Homo sapiens: one gene and its partner. The protein of the gene in region 2 interacts with the protein of the main gene of each other region in a biochemical or structural test. Each region holds a gene or a part of one and is shown on either strand. Other genes may lie near its edges.

The links. Proteins that work in one complex are often made in the same cells at the same time.
Region 1: the proteins of SLC15A2 (region 2) and HTRA1 interact in a test that uses a peptide from one of them, tested with the Homo sapiens proteins (one large-scale study listed by IntAct).

The regions. Positions count from the first base shown.
Region 1 is NC_000010.11:122,464,553-122,468,052, reverse strand, and holds part of HTRA1 (serine protease HTRA1 precursor), read right to left. Parts: intron 1-3,500. UniProt on the Homo sapiens protein: Serine protease with a variety of targets, including extracellular matrix proteins such as fibronectin. HTRA1-generated fibronectin fragments further induce synovial cells to up-regulate MMP1 and MMP3 production.
Region 2 is NC_000003.12:121,928,901-121,932,400, reverse strand, and holds part of SLC15A2 (solute carrier family 15 member 2), read right to left. Parts: intron 3,420-3,500; coding exon 3,255-3,419; intron 3,100-3,254; coding exon 3,053-3,099; intron 1,562-3,052; coding exon 1,451-1,561; intron 1,276-1,450; coding exon of another isoform or gene 1,230-1,275; exon of another isoform or gene 769-1,229; intron 763-768; coding exon 666-762; intron 1-665. UniProt on the Homo sapiens protein: Proton-coupled amino-acid transporter that transports oligopeptides of 2 to 4 amino acids with a preference for dipeptides. Transports neutral and anionic dipeptides with a proton to peptide stoichiometry of 2:1 or 3:1.

The sequences.
Region 1 (3,500 bases), on a different chromosome or scaffold from region 2:
ATGAATTTAGAAATGGAACTCTCAGCACTGACTCCAAAAACTGAACTCTGCATCTTTCCGGCAGTGATGGACATGCCTCTTCGCAGCCACTTACTTCTGTCCTGAGGCGTGTTGTCCTGGCTAATGTCCCCCTGTGGTTCTAGGCACACGTCACCAAGTAGTGCTGAATCACTGTAACTTCCATGCCACTTCCAGGAGCCTTTTGGAAACACATTCAGAATGGCTACACTTCTCGGTTTCTCTATTAATAGGATTTTTCTCTTTCTTCTTTTTTTTTTAACGGCAGAGAAGGTGGAGAAGGAAAAGATGAAATGACACAAGGGTATCTCACTTCAGATGACCCAAAGGCCTTGGAGCCCCAGGGAAGGAGCAAGGGGTATGAGTCTCGTGGAAGCTCATCTCTTGGAGATGAACATGTCACCCCTGTGGTCTCCCGGGGACTTCAGCAGCCAGTACAAAGCTGAAACACAAAGCAACCAGGCTCAAGATGGATCACATCTATTCGATGCCAGCCTTGGCTTTAACCATCAATAATTTAGGAAAAAGAAGTAGCTCATAAGGAAGCCTCCCCAGGCTTTAAATTAGGAATGAGGTGACCACAACCTCCTCAAAGACTTGTTTTCTTAGAAAAATCCCAGACCATTCTAGTTAAAAGGAGCCTCAGAGATCAACTGGCCCAATCCCCTCACTGCCGAGGCTCCGAGAGGTCGAGGGAGCTGTTACCTGGTCAGGTAACACCCCAGGAAGGGCCAGAGCCGCTTGCCCTCAGCCCCTCCGCCCCAGTTGGCCTTCCAAGGAACCCTCACCCACTGCCAAGCTTACTTCTTCTTCAAATTAAGCCTGACCAGAGCTATTTATTCACTTGAAATATAAGCTCATGGAAAGTCTGATTTCTGAATCCAAGGCATGAAACTCATCCAGGATCACACAGCTCCAAACGGAGAATCCAGCCCCAAAGCGGAGGCCATCAGGCTTCTGACCACAGTTAGCTCATGGTGCCCGCCACCATCACTTACTCAATGCAGTTATTTTAAGTTCCAATGCAACCCATTTACAGCTCTCTCAGTGGAATGAAGTAACTCAAACACTTGGTTTTTGAGCTTGTTAACTTCCTAATTTTATGAAGCCTTAATATTTTAACTCTTTAGCAAAACCAACAGAGCAATAAAAGAAGGCAGCCGACCAGAGCAGGCAGAGACTCATAAACTGCTCAAAAGACCTCCAAGTTTCCAAGTTTCAGGTGACTAAAAGCTGGAGACTCACAAATGTTTCCACCCACCCTGCCCTAAGATGAAGCTCAGGTCCCTGGCACACTTGTTTTTTAACTGACAAAAGGTGTATTTGAATTGCCAATAGTGAAAATGACTCTCGAGCAAACTGCCCACTTTAACAATGGAAAAATACAACCCCAGGGAAGCAGTGATTGTATTTTCCCCCATTGTATTGAATATAAGTTACCTGTGGGCAGTGACTTTGTTTTATTCAACCCTGTCTCCCCAGAGCTCAGTACAGGGTCAGCACTCAGCTAGCAATGATTGCTTGTTTGAGGTTCCCACGAAAGAGTCACCTAAATAAAGTACATTTTGGCACGGGTGCAGTGGCTCACTCCTGTAATCCCAGCACTTTGGGAGGCCAAAGCGGGCGGATCACAAGGTCAGGAGATGGAGACCATCCTGGCTAACACGGTGAAACCCCGTCTCTACCAAAAAATACAAAAAAATTAGCTGGGCGTGGTGGCGGGTGCCTGTAGTCCCAGCTACTCTGGAGGCTAAGGCAGGAGAATGGCATGAACCCGGGAGGTGGAGCTTGCAGTGAGCCGAGATCGCGCCACTGCACTCCAGCGTAGGCGACAGAACGAGACACTGTCTCAAAAAAAAAAGTAAATTTTACAAACATTCCAGGGCTCCAAGAAGTAAAGCAACCATCTAAGCCCTTGGTTCTTCACCAGGTATGTACATACAGCCTCTGCCTTTAGAGGCTCTGGGGTGAGACCAGGAGCAGGCGATCCTAAAAACCTCCAGGGGTGGAGTTTCTGGGCACCCCTGCAGCTTGCAGACCTCCAAGCTTGTCTGGGCTGCTGCATGGAGTAGGGTGGGCTTTCCTGGAGGATGTACTAGCAGGAGAAATGGATGAGGCTTCTGCTGTTTGGGAAGTCTGTTTCAGGTCTCGTTCCTGGCTTCTTGTCCATGTTTTAGCAGAGGTCCGGAATCCCGGCTGGTCTTTTGGGACATGGGGGAATCTGGAAGGGCTTTCTCTCTTCAAGAGCAGTTTGTCTGGATCTCTGGCTTGGAAACAGCCTTCCTACAGTCCCTCGGCTCTTTTTGCTTTTCTTTAGTGAGGGCTGCACTGACGGCAACTGGAGGCAACCTTGTCTTCAGGCTCCTGAGCCTGCAGAGTGAAGGCTGTGATCTGTCCTGTTCCATCTCTAAGCCACAGCCATCTGGAGCCCTGTTTATTTCAGCTATTAGCTGGGGCTTAGCTGGGGTTGGTTTAAAATCTCTGTTGCTCTGTCAACAGCACAGCATGGTGGTTATGAACGAGGCTCTCCATCCAGTTGTGTGGGACCACCAGTCCTGAGCAAGGTACTTCTCTGTGACTTAGCTGCCCAGCTGTAACCCAGGGAAGACTACAGCACTCACTCATAGGACTGTCCGGAGGATCAAATGAATTAGTATGCACCCGGCATAGAATAAGCACAACATATATGTTAGCCCTCATTATTAGTACCCTATTAGTATTTCAATTCCTTTCTTTTTTGTAATCATCTGACCAGTACAGCTGGAGATGACAGATCTTTGTTCTCTAGCTGAATTGTATACTTTCCCATCCAAACCCTGCCAGTGCATTGACTTCTGAAATAGATGATTTGCCTTCATTTCCAGAGCGGTGAGCAGAGATGTTCTCTGAGGTCTATTCAATAAACAGCTTACAGATGAAAGTGCTTTCCTTTGAATGGTGACATGTTCCTCTATCCAAAGATCTACTGTGACCCAAAGTGCTAGTCACCTCCCTGGGGACCCCTGATCTGATGACATTTCTACCTCTCATCCCCTGGCATGCTCTGCCCCAGACAAAGCCACCTTATAATATTTGAAATCGCAGCACCCGCTCCTGCCTCGAGAGCTCTGTCTCCAGATCCGTGTATGACTTGCTCCAACTCCAGGCCTCTAGTCAAGTGGCACCCCTAGAAAAGGCTCATGTCCATGGCAGCTAAAGTGACTCTCCCGCCAATCTTCCAGCCAGAGCAGGCAGCCAATTCACCTCATTTAACAGTGACGTCAAGTGACCTGCCCGTGGGCACCAGCTGTTGAGTCCTGGAGCCTGGCTTGGACTGAATGAAGTCTGCTGGCTCCCAGGCGCCTGTCCTCGGAAACACCTCCGAAAAGTCAAGGGTGGAGTGTGAGATCCAGAGAGGGGGCGCAGCAAAGCAGTGCCTTCCACTAAGGAAAAACAGAATGGCTGTGTATCGCAAGCACCTCCCGTTTGTCTTCATTCATTCA
Region 2 (3,500 bases):
CCAAGAAGACATTAGTACTTTTTCATAAATAACTTGTGTTTGATTGGAGACATAAAAAGACTGGAGCAAGCTGTGGCATCTCACAGTGATGGCTCAAGATAAATTATGTTTCTCCTTCCCCAAGACCCTTTGCTTGTTGTTGATGTTATCTCTTAACAACCCCTACAGAGACAGTGGGCTTTCTAAAGTCACTGTAGAGCCAGGTGCGGTGACTCACGCTTGTAATCTCAACACTTTGGGAGGCTGAGGCTGGTGGATCATCTGAGGTCAGGAGTTTGAGACCAGCCTGGCCAACACGGCAAAACCCCATCTCTACTAAAAATACAAAAATTAGCTGGGCATGGTGGTGGTGGGTGCCTGTAATCCCAGATACTCGGGGAGGTTGAGGCAGGAGAATCACTTTAACCCGGGAGGCAGAGGTTGCAGTGAGTCGAGATGGTGCCACAGCACTCCAGCCTGCGCGATGAGAGCGAAACTCTGTCTCAAAAAAAATAAAAATAAAAATAATTAAAGTCACTGTAGAACCTGTCATCTTATGCTAGAAATAAATATACGTGTCTGCTTTGCCACAGAGTCTTCTCTTTTGTTTTCTGCCCCTGCCTAGAGGATCTCAGGAGATATATGTATATGGAGAGAGGGTAAAGAGGTGGCTGTGAGCTACTTACATTAGTAATAACAAACAGATATGCTGCACCAAAGTCTAGAAGACCCAAATTCAGAGAAAAGTTCTTATCTTCTGTTCTACAGTGCACTGCAGGGTATCTGGAACAGGATGAATTTAGGTTAGAATAAATATCAAGGCTTGGAAAAGCATTCCCATCTCCAGGTGAAAGTGATCTCATCTCTCTACTGATGGTGAGGAAAGCAGTGAAGCCACTAATTATCTTTGAAGAGAAATGTTTCTTGGAGTAGGTTATTTTCATGCCAGGCTTCTGTCCCTGATTTGAGCTCTTTATTGCTTGTCAGGTATTTTCTAAAATATTCAACCTAAATAAAGAAGTTACAAATCATATTCTTTTGTTAACTTAAGTACCATGTGAATTTTCCTCATGCAAATCTTATGACTTAGTAGAACAGGCTATAACAGTGAACCTGAGAAGATAAGCTCTAAGTAATGAAGTGCCAGTGTAAGGTACCAAAGTACCTTCTTTAGTAGAAATGGAAACCAATAATAAACTTTGAGAAACTCACAGAGACGGACTGTGTTAACTATACAGAGATGGGCTGTGTTAACTATATAGTGTGGTCTTCACGGCAATCGTGATCTCAACATATCTGTGCAGAAAAAAAGTGAGACTGAGGGAAGGAAGCAAGAGTTGGAAAAGATCAGTAGTGCGTCTATACTCAAAATTAGACCACATGCACCTAAGTTCCCCACCTATATACAAAGATAGCACTTAAAAAACAATTATTGACAAAAGTAAAATGTCCACAGGGGCAATGCACTTACTCTCCTCTTTGCACAGTTCTATAAGCAGACACACCATAGTCTTCACCAACATTGAGAGAGGTATCTGTACTCAGGGAGATGTTGACATCTTTATGCAAAGTGTTAACAAACCTGAGGGTAGAGATATTATTTACATATCAAACAAACAGGAACACCTGATAAAAGAGGTTAGGGGCCTTTTATGTTTTGGGTATAACTATATCCCCAGTGCCCAGGTGCCTAGGATAGTGGCTGGCACATAAAAGGTACCTAATGTATATTGTTAACTAGACGAATGAACCCACACGTAAAAAGTAATCCATAGTCTTAGCTGTCCCTAAGTTTCTTTTTCTTGAACTTTTATCTGCCACATCCTCACCAGACCTCTAGCTAGACGGACACTATCATGATCATTCATGGAAATCTGAGTTTCCTCACTAATCCAGCTTAGGTGCATCTAATTTATTTCCCTTATAATGGTGGAATCTATCAACTGAGACTTTACTAAGAAAAATAAGATAATTATGCATATATAAAGATATGATAGTATTTACATAAAACTGATATCTTATCCTCTTATAAATGAAGTCCAATGTGACCTATGCAAAACTCAGACTCCCAGCCCAGAGTAGGTTATTATAATTGTTTTGGAGTCTGCAGAAACTTTGGACCCTTCCAAGACCATCTTTCTATTTTTCTGAACCTGGCACCTAGATTGTCCTCTCAGGATGGGTTTTGGTACATTTCTGTTTTGATAGCTTTTGATTTGGTCTCTGGCCCCAGGAATAAGAAGGACATTTCCCTTTAGAGTCCTGAATGTTGATTCCTAGACTTTAGATCATTCTACACTGACCTAGAAAATGCCCCTTCTGGGGGCCCATGGCTCTCTGACCTCACATTGTCTTATTTTGAGCTGTTTACTTTTTTTGAAGCATATTCAAAAGCAAGTTATTATGACTGTCCCAACCTTCAGTGAAATCCAGACTTTTCACTAAAAGTTCTCCACTAAAATGCTATTCTCAACAGCAACCACTTGACCTTGGTGGCCATAGACCTGTGTATCTGTCCATTTCATATCTAATACCAGCCACAGAGAACACATGTCCTCTTGGGTACTCCATCTCTGTAACTGTCCCTCACCATTTGACAAGACCCTTCAGCCTTATCTGGATTCAAAACTAAGTCTTTTGACTCCAAATGTGTGCTATACCATGATGCCTCTACAGGCTTATAATAAAAACTATACTTTAAAAGATATATATTCAACTATCAAAAATGAAGGGAGGATTATTTTCTCACTTCCAAATTTCTCTCTGGCGATCACAGAGAGAAAAGTACTCAGTTATTTTCCTGAGAGCAAGATAAATAGATAAAATTCAGCAGAAAGGATTTATGCCCCAGAGTACAGGGGGCATACACAGATAGAGTCATCTTCGAATCCCACATGAGAAAAGAAGCCTATCTGCCTCTCACTGTCCTAGAAAATGCCTTTTGACACCAGTGCCCCTGGCATTCTACGAGAGGGAATTCCTGTTCAGAACAAGTAGAATGCAGCCCCAAAGATTAGAAGAGATCCAAGATTCAAGAAAACAGAGTGGCCTGGAATCTCATTGACATTCAAACCTCACGGTTGTCATCCCATTGGTTGTTCTGCTTTCTGTATCCTTTACCTACAACAGAGGAAAGTAAAAATCAGTAACAGCTGATGAAATAAGACCTATACTCAGAAAATTTGATCATCAGGCAGATCCTTGGTAAGATGTTGATGAGACAGTCATATTACTTTGAGATGACAACTGAAAACACAGGCAATTCCTCAAATTACCATCATGCTGGAGATACTGTTCCCATCTTCACGAATGACAAGACTGTACCAGTTCTTCTCCTGCACAGAATGCTCAGTGTAGAGAGACAAATTGTGATATTTCAGGTGGAAGTGAAAATCCTGGCTTTTTGTTTTCAGGTGCAGTTTGGAATAGTGTGGTGTTTTCTGTAAAATGAAGAATATAAAATGAAGGTCACGTACACCTTCTACTGCATATTGGACATCACGATGTAGCATCTCAGGGTA